Linked DNA regions of Homo sapiens. The protein of the gene in region 1 purifies or fractionates together with the protein of each later gene. This does not show direct contact. Each region holds a gene or a part of one and is shown in the gene's direction. Other genes may lie near its edges.

Evidence for each region.
Region 2: the proteins of GML (region 1) and CNTNAP3 purify together in Homo sapiens (affinity purification with mass spectrometry; 2 studies listed by BioGRID and IntAct, with this or other methods). This does not show direct contact.
Region 3: the proteins of GML (region 1) and GAS6 purify together in Homo sapiens (affinity purification with mass spectrometry; one large-scale study listed by BioGRID and IntAct). This does not show direct contact.
Region 4: the proteins of GML (region 1) and AAGAB purify together in Homo sapiens (affinity purification with mass spectrometry; 2 studies listed by BioGRID and IntAct, with this or other methods). This does not show direct contact.
Region 5: the proteins of GML (region 1) and NUBPL purify together in Homo sapiens (affinity purification with mass spectrometry; one large-scale study listed by BioGRID and IntAct). This does not show direct contact.
Region 6: the proteins of GML (region 1) and FAT1 purify together in Homo sapiens (affinity purification with mass spectrometry; 2 studies listed by BioGRID and IntAct, with this or other methods). This does not show direct contact.
Region 7: the proteins of GML (region 1) and COL6A1 purify together in Homo sapiens (affinity purification with mass spectrometry; one large-scale study listed by BioGRID and IntAct). This does not show direct contact.

The regions. Positions count from the first base shown.
Region 1 is NC_000008.11:142,837,801-142,841,300, forward strand, and holds part of GML (glycosyl-phosphatidylinositol-anchored molecule-like protein precursor), read left to right. Parts: intron 1-2,615; 5' UTR 2,616-2,637; coding exon 2,638-2,710; intron 2,711-3,317; coding exon 3,318-3,425; intron 3,426-3,500. UniProt on the Homo sapiens protein: May play a role in the apoptotic pathway or cell-cycle regulation induced by p53/TP53 after DNA damage.
Region 2 is NC_000009.12:39,096,168-39,099,667, reverse strand, and holds part of CNTNAP3 (contactin-associated protein-like 3 isoform 1 precursor), read left to right. Parts: intron 1-3,500.
Region 3 is NC_000013.11:113,836,577-113,840,076, reverse strand, and holds part of GAS6 (growth arrest-specific protein 6 precursor), read left to right. Parts: intron 1-226; coding exon 227-349; intron 350-1,829; exon of another isoform or gene 1,830-1,885; coding exon 1,886-2,008; intron 2,009-3,500. UniProt on the Homo sapiens protein: Ligand for tyrosine-protein kinase receptors AXL, TYRO3 and MER whose signaling is implicated in cell growth and survival, cell adhesion and cell migration.
Region 4 is NC_000015.10:67,248,162-67,251,661, reverse strand, and holds part of AAGAB (alpha- and gamma-adaptin-binding protein p34), read left to right. Parts: intron 1-3,500. UniProt on the Homo sapiens protein: May be involved in endocytic recycling of growth factor receptors such as EGFR.
Region 5 is NC_000014.9:31,672,904-31,676,403, forward strand, and holds part of NUBPL (iron-sulfur cluster transfer protein NUBPL isoform 1 precursor), read left to right. Parts: intron 1-451; coding exon 452-491; intron 492-580; coding exon 581-671; intron 672-3,500.
Region 6 is NC_000004.12:186,619,357-186,622,856, reverse strand, and holds part of FAT1 (protocadherin Fat 1 isoform 1 precursor), read left to right. Parts: intron 1-1,081; coding exon 1,082-3,500.
Region 7 is NC_000021.9:46,002,159-46,005,548, forward strand, and holds the end of COL6A1 (collagen alpha-1(VI) chain precursor), read left to right. Parts: intron 1-59; coding exon 60-243; intron 244-368; coding exon 369-552; intron 553-961; coding exon 962-991; intron 992-1,232; coding exon 1,233-1,855; 3' UTR 1,856-2,890; downstream 2,891-3,390. UniProt on the Homo sapiens protein: Collagen VI acts as a cell-binding protein.

The DNA.
Region 1 (3,500 bases):
GGATCTGCCACACTGGGGGGGATTCTACTTGGCCTTCTCTGACTCCCCAGGGTCCCTCCCACCACAGCACTTGGAGGCTCTTCCATGGGAAAACTGTCTTGATCTTTAGGTACCTGGAGATTCTGGGCCACTTTGGTTCCCCGTGAGCCAAGACGGCACTCTGGTTTGCATTCCCTACTGGAGTCCCTGTCTGTAGCCAGCCTGGCTTTCAGCTGGTGCCCAAAGTGACAAATGTATTTGCAATGACAAAGGGTACCCTGGGAAGGGCTCGCCCTCTTCGGAATTTCAGTTTACGTGGGCCTTGGTGCTTCCACATCTGTCCAAGGGCCTTTCAAATGTGACTTTTAACTCTGTGGATTGATTTGCCTGGTTGTCACATTCTGAGCAGCCACAACCTACTGCATCCCATGTAGAAGTGGAAGTGACCTGATTTTTTCCTGACTTTTCAAGGCTGTATGTTTACATTTGCCTCCAATCATTCCTATATGGGAATTCCTTGGGAGTCTAACTTGGAGATTTTGTTTCTTCTGCCTTTGCTCCTGGGGGCTTAATCACTTCTGTGCCTCTGGTTATCTGTGGCACATTTGTATTTGTCATTAGTCAACCGGAGACTCGGGGTCTGAGTGGAGGGTATGTCCCCCTCCAGTGATGGTTTCTGTTGGCTTCCCAGGGTGAGGATGACTCATGACCACTTGCAAGTGGTTTTTGTGTCTGGGGTTTATGATCACACAGTCATACACGTTCTAACTCCAGACTGACTGTTGAGAAAGCCTCTGGGTAAGGAATTCCTGGGAAACACACTGTTTTCATGCATCCTCTGGAAGATGAGGCCTGAAGTTACCAGGGTCTCTGTTTGCTGATGCTGATGATCCACATTTTCTAGCCCACTCTGCTTCTCTGACACCTTTAGTCTTGAGGATCCATGCTCTGTGAAGGAATCCAAGCTCTCATTTCGCACTCACCTTGGCCCTGGCTCTGTCTCCAGGACCTCTTCTACTACAAAATCCTAAAGCTCTGGGAGCTGGGTGTCAACCTGTGCCCGAGGAAATCATACAGTTACTGTGGACTTTCCAGTTTGCTGTCTTCTAGTATTCCATTGTAGCTCTTGGGTATTTTCCCATCCACCCCAAGATCCAGCTGGAAATCAGTGAACACACTTGATGGGAGTTTTCCTGCATGTGCTCTGGGCATTGACAGTAGAAGGGTGTTCAGAATGTCTGCTGTGCCCTCATGGAGGAAGAGGGCCTCAGTGTACATGCTCTGGGTCAGTAGGTGCCCTTGAGCCCAGCTTTGGGAGCAAGTGTTGGATGAGTGAAGGAGGCATCCAGGGAAAGCAGGCACGACAGAGTGGAGACGGGGCTGCTGGGTCTCAGGGGAATGGGCATGGAGTGGGTAGGAGATCCACCTAGGGAGGCTGGCTGGCTGGACGAGTCAGGAGCCCCTTCCAAGGGTGGACACTGACAGGCCCCCAGTCTTGGTCTCCTGCATGCCAGAGGTACCAGCCCATCTTTTTTCCTAAACTTGATGACCTAGGGCTAGGGGCATTTTGAATCTCAGCCTCGCCCACTGGCGCTGGACTTGGTACACAGGGTGGGGCAAAGTGGGTACTGGATCCTGATCATCCCTATCCCTGGGGTGTGGCTTCTTGCTGCACAGTCAGCTTCTAGTTCTGTAGCCCCAGCTGCTCCTGCGGTGGAGGGAGCTACACATCAGGCTCTGACCCCCTCCAGGTGGGGCCTTCGCGTGAGGGGAGTCAGCACGCATCAGCAGCTGGGCCCAGGGAGTTGCCCCACTGAGCACTGCGGGCTGACCTGCTCCCAACCAGGGAGATGGAGCTTCCCCCTTGAGTCGGGCTGCTGAAGGGGGGTAGGGGATGGAGACAGTGCGTTTGCAGGAGTAAGGGTGCAGTTGGGTCCCTGCGAGAAAATGTCTCAGTTGTGGCAACTGATTGGTGACCTGGGGGGCGTTTCTGAGCCCACAGTGCTGGCATCAGGACTCAGGTGTGAGGTGCCCCAGACCCTCCCCTTGCCAGTAATTAGCTGATGGCTCGGTGATGCCCAGGGTGAAGGAAGACTTGATTTTGGGAGGGGAGTTCTCTCGTAATGACACTGAGGATGCCTTCAAGTTGGGCTTCTGGCATGTTCTGCCCTCGCTCCCCTTCTGTAGTCACCTTGGCCCTCGTGTTGCTGAGCTGTGTGTGGGAGCGGGAAGCGCGTCAGTGGGCGGAGGGAGCGGGAAGCGCGTCAGTGGGCGGAGTATTTGAGAACATTTCACAAGCCGCTGTTGAGGTTCAGAATCAACCAGCAGATACAGAAACATATTTCGGAGCGTGGGGACCCTTGGGTGAGCTGCCACATGAAGCAGCCCCAGGACCTCCCTGGCTCAAGGAGTGACAGCGAGTTTGTCTGAGGTGAGGGCACAGGCCTGGCGAAGCCTCGTGTGTGGGTGAGACCTGCCCGACCCCAGTGCCTTACCCGAGGAGCTACTGGCCCAGTGGGGGAGGCATTCAGGTGGGCAGAGTCAGGGAGACTCATGAGGCCGTTGAGGCCAGGGGCATAGAGCTGGCCAAGGAGCCATGGCTCACTAACGTGTTGTATGGGGCTCCTTCCCTTCAGGTCCAGGCTCCTGCGTGAAGTGATGCTCCTCTTTGCCTTACTCCTAGCCATGGAGCTCCCATTGGTGGCAGCCAGTGCCACCATGCGCGCTCAGTGTAAGTATCATTCCCTCTCACTGTCCTGGAGAGGACGAGAATTCACCTGGGGTGCTGGGGGTCACTGGGATGATTGGCTGCAACGTGGAGCAAGCCTCCGTTAGCTGGGGCCTGCATTGTCTGTGTAATCAGGGGTGGGCACTAGGGCAGTCCAGGAGTAGTCATGAGCAAGGAGAGGGTTAGGATGAAGGAGCAGCTGACCAGGGACCAAGGGGGAACCTTGATGTGGCCCTTCTCCATCAGCGCCAGGCAGGAGGGGCTCTGTCCAGGGAAACCCAGGAGGATGGCGGACCCCTGTGAGTATCCAGTCTTCCTTGGCGAGGTGAGCCAGGTCTGCAGAGCATAGCAATCCCGTATGTGACCACCAGTGGCGCTCTCTGGAGCCTGCGTTGGAGAGCAGGGAAAGCTCTCCTTGTGCCTGGCCTCCCTCCCAGGAGCTAGCCTGGGCCAGACTCAGACTGCATAGAGAGCTGAGCTGTGCAGGCTAGGAGAAGTCCTTGGAAGCAGAGGGGAAGGGCTGGCCGTTGAAGAAGGGTGGAGTGAGCTGGTAATGGGTGGAAAAGGCGTAGTGGAGCAGAAGCCTGAAGCCTGCTTTCTCCCCTCTCAGGGACTTACAGTTTGAGATGCCATGACTGTGCGGTCATAAATGACTTCAACTGTCCCAACATTAGAGTATGTCCGTATCATATTAGGCGCTGTATGACAATCTCCATTCGTAAGTACCTCTTTGTCATTTTGACACATTGTAGATTAGTCCCCTACCTGGGTAGTTTCTGGGGCCAGGGCCAGT
Region 2 (3,500 bases), on another chromosome or scaffold:
CAATGCTAATCCTCTTGAAATAATTTGGTTTTCAAAACTCTGTCCTTGTACTGTTCTAATTTTAACATCAGTAAACCATCATTGTTATTTTTGTTTTTAATTTTTAGAGACAACGTATTGCTATTCAAGCCTCTCTGTTGCCCAGGCTGGACTTGAACTCCTAGGCTTGAGCAATCGTCTTACCCATTGTCCCTTGTGACAATGACTTGAAGTGATTCAAAAGGCCTTTATAGAAATGTCTTTTCTTATAAAACAAGCATACTAACTAGAAGGGGAAAATAATATTTAAATATTGACAGTCATTAACAGGATCACTCAAACACTGTGCTCTATGATGTTTGACTCTTCTTAGAGGAGTGCAGTGGGGTATCACACAGCTTCTGCTCAGGTACAATCATGTTTTCAAAAGAAAAGGGCTGGGCGTGGTGGCTCATGCCTGTAATCCCAGCACTTTGGGAGGCCAAGGCAGGCGGATCACGAGGTCAGGAATTCAAGACCAGCCTGGCCAACATGGTGAAACCTCATCTTTACTAAAAATACAAAAATTAGCCGGGCATCCCAGCTACTCGGGAGGCTGAGGCAGGAGAATTGCTTGAACCCGGGAGGCAGAGGTTGCAGTGAGTAGAGATCGCACCACTGCACTCACTCCTGGGCGGCAGAGTGAGACTCCGTCTTGGGGAAAAAAAAAAAAAAGAAAAGGAAAAAGGGACTGATTTTAGTATTAAGTACTCTGTACTGACTTATTTAATATATTTATAATACTTTTATGAAACCTCTTACAATATTGAATCATCAGAGCTAAAATGTAGTTGTGTTTTTAAGTGTCTCTGGGCTGTTACACTTACTATTTTTAGCAGCAAAACAGGCTTTAATCACTATAAAATTGTGTGACTTTCAAAAAAATTTTGAGGATTCATTATCTAGAAGTCATTTAAATTTTCAAAAGGTCTTGCATGTGTCTTTTATCATTCCTGAAGATCTCTGTGCTAACAAATCTCATAGCTCTGGTGCAAATACAGAGCCCTTTTTATATCTCAAGCCAACATCAGGAGTAACCACTCCTTCATGAGCACAAGTGCTGATTTCTAAATCATTCCCAATCCACATTTGCTAAGTGCAATTTGAATGTTATTTTATAACCCAAAATTTTCTTAAGGATAGACATTATATAGTAAGTAAATGGAAAATGGTCCTCCAGTGGCTGGGGCATATGTTATAGTTAGATTACCTAATCTAATAAGAATGATCTGGATTTTCAGTAAATTCTTTATATTTTATGGAAATGGAAAGAGTGGAGTAGTATTCCAAGACAATGATCATCACCCAACATTGTCTTTTTATTTACAGATATATTTGGGGGGTGTGTGTATGTGTATGTGTGTACTAAACACATTTTTGGAATTAACTTGATATAAAATTAAAATATCAACCTTTCATAAAGTGTTTTAAGAGAATCTGAAAGCCCTTCAACTTTTCTCTCTCAGAATACTGTAGATACCACTTTGGATTAGCCTTTCTATCCAGACAGTAAATTTGAGAAACATCTTTGGCATAAAAGAACATTTCTAAATTCTGACCTTGAAGGAGGGTTGGTCTTCAAATCACCTTTTCTCTAGTTACTTCAGGAGCTCTGTTTCATGCTTCCTACAAAGCAAATCGATTTTTAAAGAGGAGGTAACATTCAAATAAAAAACCTGGTACTCTGGCATTTCCAGGCTGGCCACATAAGGAGCTCTGTAAACCCTCTCTCATACGAAACAAGCATAACTAGTAAAAATTATTATTTTAAAAAACAACTATTGAAAGTCTTTAGAAGATGTCCTAAGGAAATACATCAAATGAAGAAACATTTATTAATCAGTAATAATAGTGAGAGTTTGAGGCATTTAAGCCAAGACCCTCTCCCAGCACCTCCCCATCCCTAGCTCAGTATGACGGAAGCTCCACTCTATATGGATATAGCCAAGAAGCCAGAGGTTTCCTCTCTACCCAGGTCCTACTCCAGAGATACTGCATTACCCCAAGATTGGGTGCCAGCATTTCTTGTCATCCCCAGTTTTGTAGGACAGAAGCTCTGTCCACGCAGAAACAGCTGAGAAGTCTGGGGTTTCCTTCCTACACCAACTCCTCATTCCAGGACATAAGGTCTTCAGGTGTGGCAGCTGGAAAATCCTGTGTCCCAATTGCCCTCACTCCAGCTTACTTGTAAGGAACAGTTTCTCCACCAGGAGAGGCAAGGCAAGAAGTTACCTTTCCCACCCTGTGCCCTACTTGTAAGCAGAGGTTTTACTACAAAGGAGCAGGCCACTCTCACTCCCCACAGCTTCAGAGCAGTGAGGCACATTCAACCAAGAGGTAGAGGGAGGCCATGAAAATACACAGCTTGGTAGCCCTCCCCAAGTGAACTGATTTCTATTTGGAACAGAGGATGGATAAGTTTAAGCATAGTGGTATGAAGATATTGGCAGTAAGCAATTAAGAGAATTTTGATAACTCCAAGAGAGTAATGAGTTAAGCCAGGGAAGTTTAACAGAGAAAAGAAAAAAGAGTCAGCAAACTTGAAGCAAGATCAATAGAGATTATGTATCCTGAAGAATACAGAGAAATAATAATGAAAAAAATAGATCATCAGAGAAATATCAGACATAACTAAGCACACCAATATATACGTAATTGAAAATACCAGGAGAGAGAGAAAGGATCAGAAAAAAATATTTGAAAAATAATGGTTGAAAACACCCCCAAATTAATAAAAATCATTAATCTAAGATACAGAAACTCAGTGAAATACAGATGACACAAAGAAGTTTATATCCAGACACATCTTATTAAAAACTTTGAAAGCCAAAGTCAAGAAGGAAATTTTAAAAGCAGTAAGAGAAAAATCATATATACAAGGAAACGCCAGGATCAACAGCTACCTTCTAATCTGAAAGAATGGAGGCCACAGGACAGTGAGATAACATATTCAAAGAGATGAAAGAAAACTATTGTCATGAAGAAACTTACACCCAGCAAAACCGTCTTTCATGTTCAGTAGCACAGGATGACTATAGTTAACAATAATTTATTGTATATTTCAAAATAACTAGAAGAGTGGAACTGGAATGTTCCTAACAAAAAGAAATGATAAATGTTTAAGGTGATGGATATCTCAGTTACCCTGATTTGATCATTACACATTGTTTGGTTGTATCAAAATATTACCTCTACCCCATAAATAACGTACAACTATTAGGTATTCATAAAAACTAAAAATTAAAAAAGATAGTAAATATATCCCTACTTACAAAAAACAGAGAATTCACTGCTATTAGCCTGCATTAGAGGAAATAACAAAGAACGTTCCTTCAGGTTGAAGGGATATAACCCAGACAATAATCTGAATCTACACACAAAAAACAAATAGCACTAATAAAGGTAAGTGTGCAGGTAATTATAAAAGAAAGTATAATGTCATATTTCTTACCCTTTTCAGTGCTTAACTATTTTAAAAAGCA
Region 3 (3,500 bases), on another chromosome or scaffold:
CAGTTGATCTGAGTTTTCCTGGAGCCGGCCCCAGGGCCCGCCAGCCTATTCTGTCAGCCCTAGGCCAGCACAGAGGGCTCGGGTGCCCAGGGGCTGCCTCAGCCTGCGCCCCTCAGAGCTCCTCCGGGCTGGACCCGAGACCCCACAGCCGCCCCGATCTCAGCTGCGTTGGGCGCGCAGGGGTGGGGCAGCTGAACATGATTTTCCACTTTGTGTCCCCAATCAGACCTGCCTGACCAGTGCACGCCCAACCCCTGCGATAGGAAGGGGACCCAAGCCTGCCAGGACCTCATGGGCAACTTCTTCTGCCTGTGTAAAGCTGGCTGGGGGGGCCGGCTCTGCGACAAAGGTACGTGAGGCTGAAGACAAAGGCGGGGTCTCCCTCCATCTCCGACCCTGCCCTGATCCCCGCTCCTCACTCCCACTCCGGGGCACGGCCATCCTCAGGCTGCTCTCCGACAGCCCCAAGGAGGCTGCAGCCCTGAGGTATCCTGGAGCCCCAGGAGAATTGGGAGGAGCTGCAGTCTCCTTTCTGGGAGCAGGGCTGGAAGGAAAGGAAACACCAAGTGATGCCTCAGCACCCACTGATTGAAGGGCGGGGGGGGAAATTTCACCTCTGACCGTCCTTGAGTGCAGACCTGTGGTGTCAGTGGCACCCACTGATTGAAAGGCGGGGGGGAAATTTCACCTCTGACCGTCCTTGAGTGCAGACCTGTGGTGTCAGTGGCACCCACTGATTGAAAGGCCGGGGGGAGATTTCACCTCTGACCGTCCTTCAGTGTAGACCTGTGGTGTCAGTGAAGACCCTGGAGGAAGAATAGCTCCAGGGCCTGGTGGAGACCCATAGTGGAGAGCCCAGCAGGCCAGCCTGTCCCCTTTGGCAAATCCTACCCCACAGGTGGCCTGGGAGGGCTTTGCTAAGGAGTGGCCAGCTCTGGCCTGGCCTTGTCTGTCCTCGGCACCCAGAGGTCACTCCTGGCCTGCAGCCTCCTCCTGCAAGCACATGGGCATCCAGGGAGCTGAGCCCTGTGGGCTGTGACTGCCAGCAGCTCCCCAGGCTGAGACCGCAGCTGGGGATCCCCCATGCCCTCCCACCATCTACCTCCACACGCAAGGCCAGGACCAGGGGCCATGAAACGCTAGGGCTGCTGAGTGGGGTGTGAGGTCCAAGCCCTGGGGTCCCTCTCTGCTCCAGGGCTGGGCTGTGCACCTCTAGGATCTCTCTCTGCTCGGGGGCTGGGCTGTGCACTCCCAGGCTCTCTCCCTGCTCCAGGGCTGGGCTGTGCACACCCGCGGTCCCTTCCTCCTGCTCCAGTGCTGGGCTGTGCACCCCCCCGGCTCCTTCCCTGCTCCAGTGCTGGGCTGTGCACCCCCGGGCTCCCTCCCTGCTCCAGGGCTGGGCTGTGCACCCCCGGGGTCCCTTCCTCCTGCTGCGGGGCTGGGCTGTGCACCCCCGGGCTCCCTCCCTGCTCCAGGGCTGGGCTGTGCACCCCCGGGGTCCCTTCCTCCTGCTCCGGGGCTGGGCTGTGCACCCCCGGGCTCCCTCCCTGCTCCAGGGCTGGGCTGTGCACCCCCGGGGTCCCCTCCTCCTGCTCCGGGGCTGGGCTGTGCACCCCTGGGCTCCCTCCCTGCTCCAGGGCTGGGCTGTGCACCCCCGGGGTCCCTTCCTCCTGCTCCGGGGCTAGGCTGTGACCCCTGGTCTCCCTCCCTGCTCCAGGGCTGGGCTGTGCACCTTTGGGATCTCTCTCTGCTCCAGGGCTGGGCTGTGCACCTCTGGGCTCCCTCCCTGCTCCAGGGCTGGGCTGTGCACCTCTGGGATCTCTTCCTACCGTAGCCAGGGGCTGTGCACCCTTGGGCTCCCCTTCAGGCCTGTGCTTGTTCCCAGATGTCAACGAATGCAGCCAGGAGAACGGGGGCTGCCTCCAGATCTGCCACAACAAGCCGGGTAGCTTCCACTGTTCCTGCCACAGCGGCTTCGAGCTCTCCTCTGATGGCAGGACCTGCCAAGGTAAGGCCCTGGGGTGAGGCCTCTCTCCTCTCTCCTCTCCCCACCTTCTATTTTCGGTCATGTCTGCTCTTCTGCAAGCGGCTGCTGCTGGCTGGGTTCCTGTGGTTCTGGATGGGATGGGGCATCCTGCAGAGACTACACAAGCCCAGGCCAGCCGCAGCACAGGGAGCTGCTCGGCACCACACCAGGATGACTCACCCGGCATCTGAGGGCCAGGACTCAGGGGGCCGGCCCAGCCCATGAGGCCACACTGCTGGCTGTAGGGCCTCGTCCATTCCCCAGAGCCTCACAGAGCCTGGAAGTGCTCCAGGCACTTGTGTAGTGAGCTTGTGGGTCAGGGCTCCAGGCTAGGGTCCCCCCGCCGTCCACTCTCCCCAGCATCCCCAGAAGCACCCCGTTGTTGGTCTCCCTCTGTCCACTAAATATAGCCCTGCCCTCCCCACTTCCTTTCATATTTCAGTCTGGGGTTCCCTCAGCCCAGGGCCAGAGCTGGGGAGCCCCAGGACACCCCAGAAAGTCACTGTGAATGTGCGCGCCCCCGACGCTGTTCCAGGTGCTGCTGCTGCCACTGGCCCTTTGCCACTTTGCAGGGGGAGCACCTTCCTCCTCCCTCCCCACGTTGTATCTGGACATGCCCAGGCGTGTCCCTGAGAGTTTCTGGCATAGTTCTTAGCGCTGCTGCTGACTGTCCAGGACACCGAACTGCGTGGACAGGACAGACAGTTGCTCAGGGAGAAACAGCCCCAGGATCTGGAGAGTGAATCTGACCAGACAGGAGGGGCCACACCCCATCCCCCGATTTCAAAAGGCAGCTGCTATTTCTGTCCACTTTGGTGGTTCCCTTCCCTGACCACCCAGGAGTTAGCCCTGTGTGCAGATGACGTGATTCCCATCTTAACACATAAACCCATTTCCCCGCCGAGGACAGAGCCCCTCCCATCACTGCTCTATCCCTGACCTGGAAGACAGCAGCACCCCAGGTTTAAAGAGAGGTGAAGACTAGGCCGATCCTGAGAGATGACGTCTAAAGCATCTCCCGTGGGTCCCTGCACCAGTCGGGCACTCCCGGCAAAGTCTAGGCTCACAGTTACTGCCCACAGTGACAGAGGCATTCCCGTCCTCTCCTCCTCCTCCCCATCTTCCTCTTCCTCCCCACCATTCCCCCTCCTCCTTTCCCCACTCCCCCTCCTCCTCTCCCCACTCCCCCTCCTCCTCCCCCCCACTCCCCCTCCTCCTCCCCATCTTCCTCCTCCTCCTCATCTTCCTCCTCCTCTTTCTTCTCCTCCTCCCCCCACTCCCCCTCTTCCTCCCCATCTTCTTCCTCCCCCTCCTCCTCCTCATTCCCCTCTTCTTCCTCCTCATTCCCCTCTTCTTCCTCCTCATTCCCCCTCCTCTTTTTCCCCCTCCTCCTCCCCCATCCTTATTTCCCCTCTCCTCCTCCTCCCCCACCCCTCCCCACCCCCTCCCTCACCCCTCCCCACCCCCTCCCTCA
Region 4 (3,500 bases), on another chromosome or scaffold:
GGTTCTCCAATTTCTCTTTCTTTGGACATCTGATCTATCTTAGTGCTTTTAACCACCAGTGGGAAATATAACCAAGTAACAGCTTATTAGAATTATTCTTAAAACAGTCCAAATGCAGTGGTGCATGCTTGGAATTCCAACACTGTGGGAGGCCAGGACGGGAGGATCACTTGAGCACAGGAGTTCAAGACCAGCCTGGGCAACATAGGGAGACCTAGTCTCTACAAAATAAAAATAAAAATGTTAACAAATTAGCCGGGCATAGTGGTATGTGCCTTTCGTCCTAGCTCCTTGGGAGGCTGAGGTGGGAGGATTGCTTGAGCCTGGGAGATCGAGGCTGTAGTGAGTTGTGATGGTGCTACTGCCCTCCAGCCTAGGTGACAGAGTGAGACCCTGTCTCAAATACACACACACACACACACACAGACACACACACACACACACACGCACTTAAAATAAGAATCAGTAGGCCTCTACTATGCATAAAGTGCATGCATGGACTTCATTAGAAACTTTTTCTTTTTGTCACTCAAAGGCCTTATTTGCAGTATTCTGGGTGGATGTCTGACATCGGATAAAAGGGGCATTACTGACGGGGTAGATTTTTTATTTTATTTTATTTTATTTTAATTATTGAGACGGAGTCTCACTCTGTTGCCTGGGCTGGAGTGCAGTGGCACGATCTCGGCTCACTGCAAGCTCCGCCTCCTGGGCTCGCGCCATTCTCCTGCCTCAGCCTCCTGAGTAGCTGGGACTACAGGCGCCCACCACCAAGCTCGGGTAATTTTTTGTATTTTTTAGTAGAGACGGGGTTTCACTGTGTTAGCCAGGATGGTCTCCATCTCTTGACCTCGTGATCTGCCCGCCTCAGCCTCCCAAAGTGCTGGGATTACAAGCATGAGCCACCGCACCCGGCGACAGGGTAGATTTTTTAAAGGGAAATGAAGCCTCAGGATGCTTGAGGGACTTGTAATACACGATATGAGAGCAAATATCTACTCCATGGCCAGAGCTCTTTCCACCTCACATATATTTTACAAAAGTTTTACTTTATTCTGGAAAAGTATATTCTGATGAATATTTATTAAACACAGAGACAGTCTCTGTTCCAGTTACTGCAGCTAAAATAATGCCTAAGATACTGTTCCTGCCCTTGAGAGGAATGTAGAAAGTGTATCCTCCATGTGCCAGGCATGGTGGCTCACGCCTGTAATCCCAGCACTTTGGGAGGTTAAGGCAGGCAAATCACTTGAGGTCAGGAGTTCAAAACCAGCCTGGCCAACATGGAGAAACCCCGTCTCTACTAAAAATTCAAAAATTAGCTGGGCACGGTGGTGCGTGCCTATAATCCTAGCTACTCAGGTGGCTGAGGCAGGAGGGTCACTTGAACCCAGCAGGCAGAGGTTGCAGTGAGCCGAGATCATGCCACTGCACACCACCCTGGGTGACAGTGGGACCCTGCCTCAAAGTCTCCAGTAAAGAAAAAAAAGAAAGAAAGAAAGTGTATGGTCCACCTGTGAAAATATTAAAATGAAGATATGTAAGTTTTAACATCTTACTCTACTTCCCTAGAAGGAACTTTAGATAGAAAAGTCCCTGGAAACTTGTTTGGTTTTAAAGTGTGTAATGCCAACTCAGCAACTGTAGTTCATTCAGTTTCTACATCTGAACAAAATTCTTCCTTTTAGTGAAATGTAGAAATTTAGAGCTCTTATAATCATAGCAAGCATTTATATGTATATCTGTACTCTTCCCAAACATGTTTTCACATTTAGTTTGGTCTTTGTATCCCTGTGAAGGTAGGTTGTGTCCATTTTGCAGATGAAGAAACTGTGCTTTGGAAATACTAAATGACTTGCCCAGGTGCTGGAGCATATGTTCAAATTCAGGATTTATATGCATAGGAATGTGTGAATGTAATGTGTTGAGATTCCTTAGCAGTCAGAACTATTTTAATTTAAGGTGGTGGCACTGGTGTAAGCAATGAGAGAGACGATTAACCCCTAAACGGTTTTAAAATATGCTCACATTGCCACTTCGGATGATTAAAGTCTTAATTCTGAATGGAGGGGAAAAAAATTGTTGCCATCGAAACCAATAAATGGAGCATTATTTAATATGTGTATTAAATTAAATACATATTAAAAAAGAGCATTATGCATACCTGATAGGTAGTCTAACAGTGTCTGGATTTTTATTTTCTCAATTGAGTGAACTCAGAGATGCTATGTATTGGTGATTCTTACCGTACAGGATTAACATTAAAAATAAAGGGTTATTTGAGATCATTTCTAACATCTCTTCTAGATGTAAAATTCTGTGTTATTGGCCAGGCATGGTGGCTCACGCCTGTAATCCCAGCACTTTGGGAGTCCGAGGGGGGCTGATCACCTGAGGTCAGGAGTTCGAGAGCAGCCTGGCCAACATAGTGAAACCCCATCTCTACTAAAAATGCAGAAATTAGCCGGGTGTGGTGGTGCACACCTGTAATCTGAGCTACTCGGGAGGCTGAGGCAGGAGGATTCCTTGAACCCGGGAGGTGGAGGTTCTAGTAAGCTCAGATCACGCCACTGCACTCCAGCATGGGTGACAGAGTGAGACCCGGTCTTAAAAAAAAAAATTTCTGGGTTATTATGTTACTTATTTTTATGCAAGATTTATATAATGCTTCTTAACTTGACTTAATGTTTTTTCTCTTTTAGTTTTTGAAAACTTAGGAATCAAGCCTTATTTTAAGGTTGCAGTAGATGGAGTAGAAAATTTAGTTATGGAGTAGAAAATTTAACCTTTTGTGTTTGAAATTCACATGCATTTACCCATAGAAATAACCCTCCGGTCCTCAGGTTTCTGAAACTGCAAAACCAGAAAGCACAATTATATAATGGGTAAACTAGGCCTTGGAGAGTTACACAGGAAAGCCAGCCATATTCATGACATTGCTTCTTTGGAAAACATGCATTCTTCTGCAAGATTGGGAATTTGTTTCTAGGTCTGTCAGACTCCTATACTTGCAAAAGTATCTTGAAGTAATTTACTAAAGAGAACATTGTTATTTCAAAGGTAGAGGCTATTGTGCTGCTTTGACACCATTGTCTAGCAACAGAATGGGGATAAAAGCTTGAGTCTTCAAATGTGTGTTTTTCTGTAGCTTCTTTAAGTATTTTGAGTGCACTCTTTGGTTTACTCTGGGAATAAGTAATTTTTACTTAAGCAAAGTTACTTATTTTGTTGTGGTAAGAGGATTCTGCCTTTGATTGGATTGTATATTTCCATGTCTTTATTTTCTTCAAAGAATGGAAGATTGGGCCAGCAAGATGTACCACAAGGGCCTAGAGTTGTCATCACAGAGTGATTCAGTAGATGGTCAGATGAGGGCAGTGATTTCAACTGATGACTGGGGTGAGGGAACTGATTGTTTTTAGCTATGATACTTAATATATTTACATTTTTTCAACCAACATTAAAAGAAGGATTGATTTTTATGTTTATTAAAAGAGGGA
Region 5 (3,500 bases), on another chromosome or scaffold:
TATGAGTAGCCTATTTGTATTTCCAGTTTGGTATTCTTTGATCCTGGAAGGATGGACGGGCAAAGGGGAGATGTTAGTCAAGTAGTGCGAAGTTTCAGTTAGACAGGGGGAATAAGTTCTAGTGATCTGTTGCGCAGCATGGTGACTATTGTTAACAATCATTTTTTGTATATTTCAACATTGTTAAAAGAGTAGACTTTAAATGTTTTTACTGCAAAGAAAGAATATGTGAGGTGATGTGGAATGCTAATTAGCATGGTTTATTATTTATTTACTTATTATTATTCTACTACAATGTAGACATGTATCATAACATTACGTTGTACCCCGTAAACATATGCAATTTTTGTTAATTAAAAAAATTTTTAAAAAGATGAAAAAAAAACCCAATTCAGAATGTTTATGTGTTGTGTTTTATTGTTCTAAAAGAGAGGATTTTTTTTTTTTCCAGGCAACCTAATGAGGCCTCTCTTGAATTATGGTATTGCTTGGTGAGCATATATATATTTTTAATGTTACTTTTCAGAATAATGTTGATTAATTTATACAAATTAGTTGTATTTTTATGTTACTGTTGCAGTATGTCTATGGGCTTTCTGGTTGAAGAAAGTGAACCAGTAGTTTGGAGAGGCCTTATGGTAATGTCGGCCATTGAGAAATTGTTGAGGCAGGTAAGAATATTGCTTTAAATATCATTTTATCATTGGCAAAGCTGTGGTTAATACATTTGCTGATTGGAGAATTGTTAAAATTTGCATTCAGGAATCAGTTGATGGGATGAATGTATAATGCGTAATATGGCACCTAATGAGTTAATGTGATGCCAAGACCAAACTTCACTGTTAACATGATTTAATCTTTCCCATTGCTTGTGAGTACTAAAAATTCTATTGTCTTACTTAATACTGTTTTCTTGCTTTGACTGTGTCTGCAGTAAGAAGACCAAATCAATTTTTATAAGTTATCTTCCTTCTTTAGATTTGTGATTAATCTCATTGTGGTCAATATTGAGTTATAAGGGCAGTGTAGAAATTCTACAGATGTAGAAAAAAATTATATAAACCAATGTACTTGTGATTTAAAATTGCTCCAGAAAAAAGTAAAATTTTGTTTTGAGTATATATGGTTATATATTTGCATGTGTAATATCTGTCCAATCAACTTTAATTTAGCCTTAAGAAAAGAAGAGAACATTTGATTGGATAATCTAAAAATATCAATTGGGCTATATGTTATTTATAGTTAGCTTGGAATAAGTTTTATTTTTTTCTCAGTAGATTTGAGTTTGTAATTGTCTTCTAGGTAAAAGTTAAAAGTAATTTGCATTTACTTCATCAACTTATAACAGTTACCTTTTATTTGTTCAGATTCTACTTTGGGTCAGGCACCATGCAATAGGTTGATAATTCTAATGGTAGATACTCCTATATTCATTTTCAGGTATACAATTAAGTAGATGAAATCTGTCTTGAACTCTGAAACTCTTCTTTTTTTCACTATAACATCTTGCCTTTCTACCACTTTTGCTGCTTGAATTGTGATAAATGTGCTGTTTGATTTTTGGTCCTAGTCATTTAAGTCTCTTGGTTTCATTTTCTCCTCTTTTACTGTCAGATCCCCTAGTTAGTGATTTCATTTAAAATCCCCAAACCACCCCATCCCCACCAATTCCTTTGTGACCTTGACCTTTATTTGTCTTGATTAACCCACCCTCTGTTTTCTGTACTTCTAAATACTATCAGAGAATATAGAATAGTTGTGTTAATTGCCTGCATTATATATTTTTGATTTTTGAATTTAGCTACCTTCACAACACTTCAGTCATCAGATTTTACATGTTGTTATTCTCAAAAAATATTCAGGGAATTTGGTAGTCTAGCAGAGGTCCAAATGAAGATTTGGCAAAAACAAGCTCTCTGACACATAAATTGTATAAAAGTTACAGTTTATTGGTTAGGTGTGGTGGCTCACGCCTGTAATCCCAGCACTTTGGGAGGCCGAGATGGGCGGATCACGAGGTCAGGAGATCGAGACCATCCTGGCTAACACGGTGAAACCCCATCTCTACTAAAAATACAAAAAAATTAGCCCTGCTTGGTGGCGGGTGCCTGTAGTCCCAGCTACTCGGGAGGCTGAGGCAGGAGAATGGCGTGAACCCGGGAGGCGGAGCTTGCAGTGAGCCGAGATCGTGCCACTGCACTCCAGCCTGGGTGACAGAGTAAGACTCCGTCTCAAAAAAAAAAAAAAAGTTACAGTTTATTTTGAGAAGTATGGTGGATACATTTTCAGCAAACATACTATAGAATATCAGGATAAAGATGGGGTAAGAAAATGGATTCATATTTTATTGGGATGCTTTGAGGTTACCTAGAGTATATCTATCTTACAGTCTTTCGTGAAGTCACTTTCATGTGTGCATTTTATTGGGAGCTGAAAAGCTGGTATTTTAGGCCTACACTGGGACTAATGCTGATCATCAGAGCTAAGGAGTGTTTTCACTTTTGTTTTGATTTAGAAACCAAACCATTATTTGGTAAATTTAACATCCTTAATGAAAATTCAGTAGCTAGATAGAACTTTTGTACCTGATTCATTGGCTCATTTTAAACAATTGAATATAACATATATACAGAAGAATGTACAAATCATGAGTATAATTAGATAAATTATCCCAAAGTTGAAACACCTATATAATCATCATTTAGAACAAGATAACTAGAACAAAACCAGTGATCCAGAACATCCTCTCATGTTCCCTCCTAGTACCCATTTATGGGGAGAAGAAAAATACTGTGGTCATTCTGATATCCTGAACTAGAAGTCTGGTTTAAAGTTGTTTTGTTTTTTTCTTTTTCTCCCTGACAATACTTTGTTGAGCTAAAATTATGCATACAATGAGATGCATAGATTTTCAGTATATAATTCAGTGATTTTTGATAAATATATATACCTATGTAATCATAACCCAATCAAACTAAATAGCATTTCCATCCTCCAAGAGAGTTTCCTTGGGTCCCCTTCTGTTTCATCCCATACCCATAGACAATCATTGTGATTTCTGTCACCGTAGTGAGTTTTACATGTTTTTAAATTTCAAATGAATAGGATTATACAGGATGTAGCTTTTTTTTTTTTTGAGACAGAGTTTAGCTCTTGTTGCCCAGTCTGGAGTGCAATAGTGCCATCTCAGCTCACTGCAACCTCCGCCTCCCAGGTTTAAGCAATTCTCCTGCCTCAGCCTTCTGAGTAGCTGGGACTACAAGGCATGCGCCACCACGCCTGGCTAATTTTGTATTTTTAGTAGGGACGGGGTTTCTCCATGTTGGTTAGGCTGGTCTTGAACTCCCAACTTCAGGTGATCTGCCCGTCTCGGTCTCCCAAAGTGCTGGGATTACAGGCGTGAGCCACTGCAACCGTCCAGGATGTAGCTTTTTTTTTATATGGTTTCACTTAGCCTAAGGCTTTTGAAATTCATGTTTATTGTTGCATATAATAGTAGT
Region 6 (3,500 bases), on another chromosome or scaffold:
AGTTCATTTGGGGAAAATAAATTCTGTGCTATGACAGGGATGGTGAATTCTGGGTGCTTGTTCATGAAACAGAAAAAGGATGGGCTCGTGGATGGATTAAACCTGAGAACCTGCAACGCCACCCTGATTTATCCAAAAGGGCTGTAGAGAACTGCTTGTTTCTTTGAAGATTCAGTCGATGATACAAAATTATACAATATTCTGGAGTTGTGGTTGCAGCTAAAGATACATACAGTATAGCCTGAAAAGGTCCAAAGAAAAGGAGGTAAAACACTCTATCTTTGAGCAGCCTCTCAGCTTCAGCACTGCTGACATTTGGAACCAGATATTTTTGGTTGTGTAGGGCTGTCCTGTGCGTTGTAGGATGCTTAGCAACACCCCTGGTCTCCACCCACGAGACGCCAGGAGCACCCTCTTCCGACAAGTAGTGACAACCAAAAATGTCTGCAGGCATTACCAGATGTCTCCTAGGGAGCAGAATTGCCCCCAGGGGAAAACCACTGACCTAGAGGATAAGTTGACCTGAAAAAGATAAGAAGGGAATGTTGTTGCAATCTTCAAAACCTGTAAAGTGGGGTGGGTTACACACATTTATCCATGGACAATTGTCTCTTGAAGCTTGATGTCAATTTCTTACTGAATCGAAATCTTTCGTAATGAATACATATCTTAAGAATTTGTAAGTCATAACCGTTGAAAATACAAATGTGGTCCAGAAGTGTTTTGAGGGACTCCTGGAAAGTGACTCACTCAACTGCTTTGTGGAAGGATAGCCTTGTCTTTCCACCACACATTCCCAGTGCAGCCGAGAGAGGGAGTTTTGGCTTCGCTAAGAGCAGAGTGCTGTTTCTTCTGTTTTTTGTTTTTCATCATTTATGGACAAAATTCTGTAAAGTATACCTGGTTTTAGGTGGATAAAAATAAAACAAGTTGAAGGTTCCATTCAAATATTGACATCCCCTGAGTTTCTGCTTAATTTCAGAATATAATTTTTAAGGATACTTTGTTTCTGTTTCTCTAACTACTACTACTACTGCCCCTTGTGTTTTTCTGTAACATGTATTTTTTCCTCTCCTTCCAGGAAATATTGGAAATTCTTTTATGATTGATCCTGTCTTGGGCTCTATTAAAACTGCCAAAGAATTAGATCGAAGTAACCAAGCGGAGTATGATTTAATGGTAAAAGCTACAGATAAGGGCAGTCCACCAATGAGTGAAATAACTTCTGTGCGTATCTTTGTCACAATTGCTGACAACGCCTCTCCGAAGTTTACATCAAAAGAATATTCTGTTGAACTTAGTGAAACTGTCAGCATTGGGAGTTTCGTTGGGATGGTTACAGCCCATAGTCAATCATCAGTGGTGTATGAAATAAAAGATGGAAATACAGGTGATGCTTTTGATATTAATCCACATTCTGGAACTATCATCACTCAGAAAGCCCTGGACTTTGAAACTTTGCCCATTTACACATTGATAATACAAGGAACTAACATGGCTGGTTTGTCCACTAATACAACGGTTCTAGTTCACTTGCAGGATGAGAATGACAACGCGCCAGTTTTTATGCAGGCAGAATATACAGGACTCATTAGTGAATCAGCCTCAATTAACAGCGTGGTCCTAACAGACAGGAATGTCCCACTGGTGATTCGAGCAGCTGATGCTGATAAAGACTCAAATGCTTTGCTTGTATATCACATTGTTGAACCATCTGTACACACATATTTTGCTATTGATTCTAGCACTGGTGCTATTCATACAGTACTAAGTCTGGACTATGAAGAAACAAGTATTTTTCACTTTACCGTCCAAGTGCATGACATGGGAACCCCACGTTTATTTGCTGAGTATGCAGCGAATGTAACAGTACATGTAATTGACATTAATGACTGCCCCCCTGTGTTTGCCAAGCCATTATATGAAGCATCTCTTTTGTTACCAACATACAAAGGAGTAAAAGTCATCACAGTAAATGCTACAGATGCTGATTCAAGTGCATTCTCACAGTTGATTTACTCCATCACCGAAGGCAACATCGGGGAGAAGTTTTCTATGGACTACAAGACTGGTGCTCTCACTGTCCAAAACACAACTCAGTTAAGAAGCCGCTACGAGCTAACCGTTAGAGCTTCCGATGGCAGATTTGCCGGCCTTACCTCTGTCAAAATTAATGTGAAAGAAAGCAAAGAAAGTCACCTAAAGTTTACCCAGGATGTCTACTCTGCGGTAGTGAAAGAGAATTCCACCGAGGCCGAAACATTAGCTGTCATTACTGCTATTGGGAATCCAATCAATGAGCCTTTGTTTTATCACATCCTCAACCCAGATCGCAGATTTAAAATAAGCCGCACTTCAGGAGTTCTGTCAACCACTGGCACGCCCTTCGATCGTGAGCAGCAGGAGGCGTTTGATGTGGTTGTAGAAGTGACAGAGGAACATAAGCCTTCTGCAGTGGCCCACGTTGTCGTGAAGGTCATTGTAGAAGACCAAAATGATAATGCGCCGGTGTTTGTCAACCTTCCCTACTACGCCGTTGTTAAAGTGGACACTGAGGTGGGCCATGTCATTCGCTATGTCACTGCTGTAGACAGAGACAGTGGCAGAAACGGGGAAGTGCATTACTACCTCAAGGAACATCATGAACACTTTCAAATTGGACCCTTGGGTGAAATTTCACTGAAAAAGCAATTTGAGCTTGACACCTTAAATAAAGAATATCTTGTTACAGTGGTTGCAAAAGATGGAGGGAACCCGGCCTTTTCAGCGGAAGTTATCGTTCCGATCACTGTCATGAATAAAGCCATGCCTGTGTTTGAAAAACCTTTCTACAGTGCAGAGATTGCAGAGAGCATCCAGGTGCACAGCCCTGTGGTCCACGTGCAGGCTAACAGCCCGGAAGGCCTGAAAGTGTTCTACAGCATCACAGACGGAGACCCTTTCAGCCAGTTCACTATTAACTTCAATACTGGAGTTATCAATGTCATAGCTCCTCTGGACTTTGAGGCCCACCCGGCATATAAGCTGAGCATACGCGCAACTGACTCCTTGACGGGCGCTCATGCTGAAGTATTTGTGGACATCATAGTAGACGACATCAATGATAACCCTCCTGTGTTTGCTCAGCAGTCTTATGCGGTGACCCTGTCTGAGGCATCTGTAATTGGAACGTCTGTTGTTCAAGTTAGAGCCACCGATTCTGATTCAGAACCAAATAGAGGAATCTCATACCAGATGTTTGGGAATCACAGCAAGAGTCATGATCATTTTCATGTAGACAGCAGCACTGGCCTCATCTCACTACTCAGAACCCTGGATTACGAGCAGTCCCGGCAGCACACGATTTTTGTGAGGGCAGTTGATGGTGGTATGCCCACGCTGAGCAGTGATGTGATTGTCACGGTGGACGTTACCGACCTCAATGATAATCCACCACTCTTTGAACAACAGATTTATGAAGCCAGAATTAGCGAGCACGCCCCTCATGGGCATTTCGTGAC
Region 7 (3,390 bases), on another chromosome or scaffold:
GGGCTCGGCCCCGCGGCAGGCCTGGCCCCAACCGGCCCTTCCTGCCCTTTGCTATGCAGAGCCATCAAGAGCCTGCAGTGGATGGCGGGCGGCACCTTCACGGGGGAGGCCCTGCAGTACACGCGGGACCAGCTGCTGCCGCCCAGCCCGAACAACCGCATCGCCCTGGTCATCACTGACGGGCGCTCAGACACTCAGAGGGACACCACACCGCTCAACGTGCTCTGCAGCCCCGGCATCCAGGTGGGGTGGCCACCCCCAGGCTGCACCTGCCCCGCCTAGGGCGCCCCGCCAGCCAGGGTGGCCTTGTCCCCAGAAAGACGAGGGCAGAGCAGGCTGCGCCACACCGATACTGTCTGTCCCCACAGGTGGTCTCCGTGGGCATCAAAGACGTGTTTGACTTCATCCCAGGCTCAGACCAGCTCAATGTCATTTCTTGCCAAGGCCTGGCACCATCCCAGGGCCGGCCCGGCCTCTCGCTGGTCAAGGAGAACTATGCAGAGCTGCTGGAGGATGCCTTCCTGAAGAATGTCACCGCCCAGATCTGCATAGGTGCGCATGGGGCCACCCGGGCAGTCCCAGATCTGCGTAGGTGCGCGCGGGGCCGCCCGGGCAGTCCCAGATCTGCGTAGGTGCACGCGGGGCCGCCCGGGCAGTCCCAGATCTGCGTAGGTGCACGCGGGGCCGCCCAGGGCCGTCCCAGATCTGTGTAGGTGCGCGCAGGCGCCCAGGGCTGTCCCAGAGGCCTCCTCCCAGCTCACTGTTACCTCCAGGGGCACGGCCACCCTGTAGGTGCGCACGGGGCCGCCTGGGGCTGTCCCACAGGCATCCTCCTCCCGGCTCGCTGTGACTTCCGGGGGCACGGCCACCCCTGTGCTCGGCCGGGAGGTCCTGTGACATCTCCTTGCGGGGTTATAGGTGGAGCAGTGGGCTCACACTGCACGGCTTTTCTCTTTTACAGACAAGAAGTGTCCAGATTACACCTGCCCCAGTGAGTACCTCGGCGGCCGGGACACGTGGGGAGGAGGGCACCGTGGTTGGGGCGAGGGCTCTGAGAGGACGGGGCTCTGGGAGGAGGGCCTGGCGGTCACGAGAGTAGGTGCATGGCTCACTCCGGTGGCTGAGCACCACCGTGCCGTGCCCTCTCTGGGGAGCTTAGACGCTCTCTGGCCGGCCCACTGCGGCTGCATCACCAGGGCCTCATGCTAACGGCTGCCCACCCCGCCCCGCAGTCACGTTCTCCTCCCCGGCTGACATCACCATCCTGCTGGACGGCTCCGCCAGCGTGGGCAGCCACAACTTTGACACCACCAAGCGCTTCGCCAAGCGCCTGGCCGAGCGCTTCCTCACAGCGGGCAGGACGGACCCCGCCCACGACGTGCGGGTGGCGGTGGTGCAGTACAGCGGCACGGGCCAGCAGCGCCCAGAGCGGGCGTCGCTGCAGTTCCTGCAGAACTACACGGCCCTGGCCAGTGCCGTCGATGCCATGGACTTTATCAACGACGCCACCGACGTCAACGATGCCCTGGGCTATGTGACCCGCTTCTACCGCGAGGCCTCGTCCGGCGCTGCCAAGAAGAGGCTGCTGCTCTTCTCAGATGGCAACTCGCAGGGCGCCACGCCCGCTGCCATCGAGAAGGCCGTGCAGGAAGCCCAGCGGGCAGGCATCGAGATCTTCGTGGTGGTCGTGGGCCGCCAGGTGAATGAGCCCCACATCCGCGTCCTGGTCACCGGCAAGACGGCCGAGTACGACGTGGCCTACGGCGAGAGCCACCTGTTCCGTGTCCCCAGCTACCAGGCCCTGCTCCGCGGTGTCTTCCACCAGACAGTCTCCAGGAAGGTGGCGCTGGGCTAGCCCACCCTGCACGCCGGCACCAAACCCTGTCCTCCCACCCCTCCCCACTCATCACTAAACAGAGTAAAATGTGATGCGAATTTTCCCGACCAACCTGATTCGCTAGATTTTTTTTAAGGAAAAGCTTGGAAAGCCAGGACACAACGCTGCTGCCTGCTTTGTGCAGGGTCCTCCGGGGCTCAGCCCTGAGTTGGCATCACCTGCGCAGGGCCCTCTGGGGCTCAGCCCTGAGCTAGTGTCACCTGCACAGGGCCCTCTGAGGCTCAGCCCTGAGCTGGCGTCACCTGTGCAGGGCCCTCTGGGGCTCAGCCCTGAGCTGGCCTCACCTGGGTTCCCCACCCCGGGCTCTCCTGCCCTGCCCTCCTGCCCGCCCTCCCTCCTGCCTGCGCAGCTCCTTCCCTAGGCACCTCTGTGCTGCATCCCACCAGCCTGAGCAAGACGCCCTCTCGGGGCCTGTGCCGCACTAGCCTCCCTCTCCTCTGTCCCCATAGCTGGTTTTTCCCACCAATCCTCACCTAACAGTTACTTTACAATTAAACTCAAAGCAAGCTCTTCTCCTCAGCTTGGGGCAGCCATTGGCCTCTGTCTCGTTTTGGGAAACCAAGGTCAGGAGGCCGTTGCAGACATAAATCTCGGCGACTCGGCCCCGTCTCCTGAGGGTCCTGCTGGTGACCGGCCTGGACCTTGGCCCTACAGCCCTGGAGGCCGCTGCTGACCAGCACTGACCCCGACCTCAGAGAGTACTCGCAGGGGCGCTGGCTGCACTCAAGACCCTCGAGATTAACGGTGCTAACCCCGTCTGCTCCTCCCTCCCGCAGAGACTGGGGCCTGGACTGGACATGAGAGCCCCTTGGTGCCACAGAGGGCTGTGTCTTACTAGAAACAACGCAAACCTCTCCTTCCTCAGAATAGTGATGTGTTCGACGTTTTATCAAAGGCCCCCTTTCTATGTTCATGTTAGTTTTGCTCCTTCTGTGTTTTTTTCTGAACCATATCCATGTTGCTGACTTTTCCAAATAAAGGTTTTCACTCCTCTCCCTGTGGTTATCTTCCCCACAAAGTAAAATCCTGCCGTGTGCCCCAAAGGAGCAGTCACAGGAGGTTGGGGGGCGTGTGCGTGCGTGCTCACTCCCAACCCCCATCACCACCAGTCCCAGGCCAGAACCAGGGCTGCCCTTGGCTACAGCTGTCCATCCATGCCCCTTATCTGCGTCTGCGTCGGTGACATGGAGACCATGCTGCACCTGTGGACAGAGAGGAGCTGAGAAGGCAACACCCTGGGCTTTGGGGTCGGGAGCAGATCAGGCCTCAGTGGGCTGGGGCCGGCCACATCCACCGAGGTCAACCACAGAGGCCGGCCACAGGTTCTAGGCTTGGTACTGAAATACCCCTGGGAGCTCGGAAGGGGAGTTGAGATACTGCAGGGCCCATAGGAAGAAGTCTTGGGAGGCTCCACCTTTGGGGCAGAGGAAGAAGTCTTGGGAGGCTCCACCTTTGGGGCAGAGCAAGAAGAGGGCGGAGGGCAGAGGCAGCGA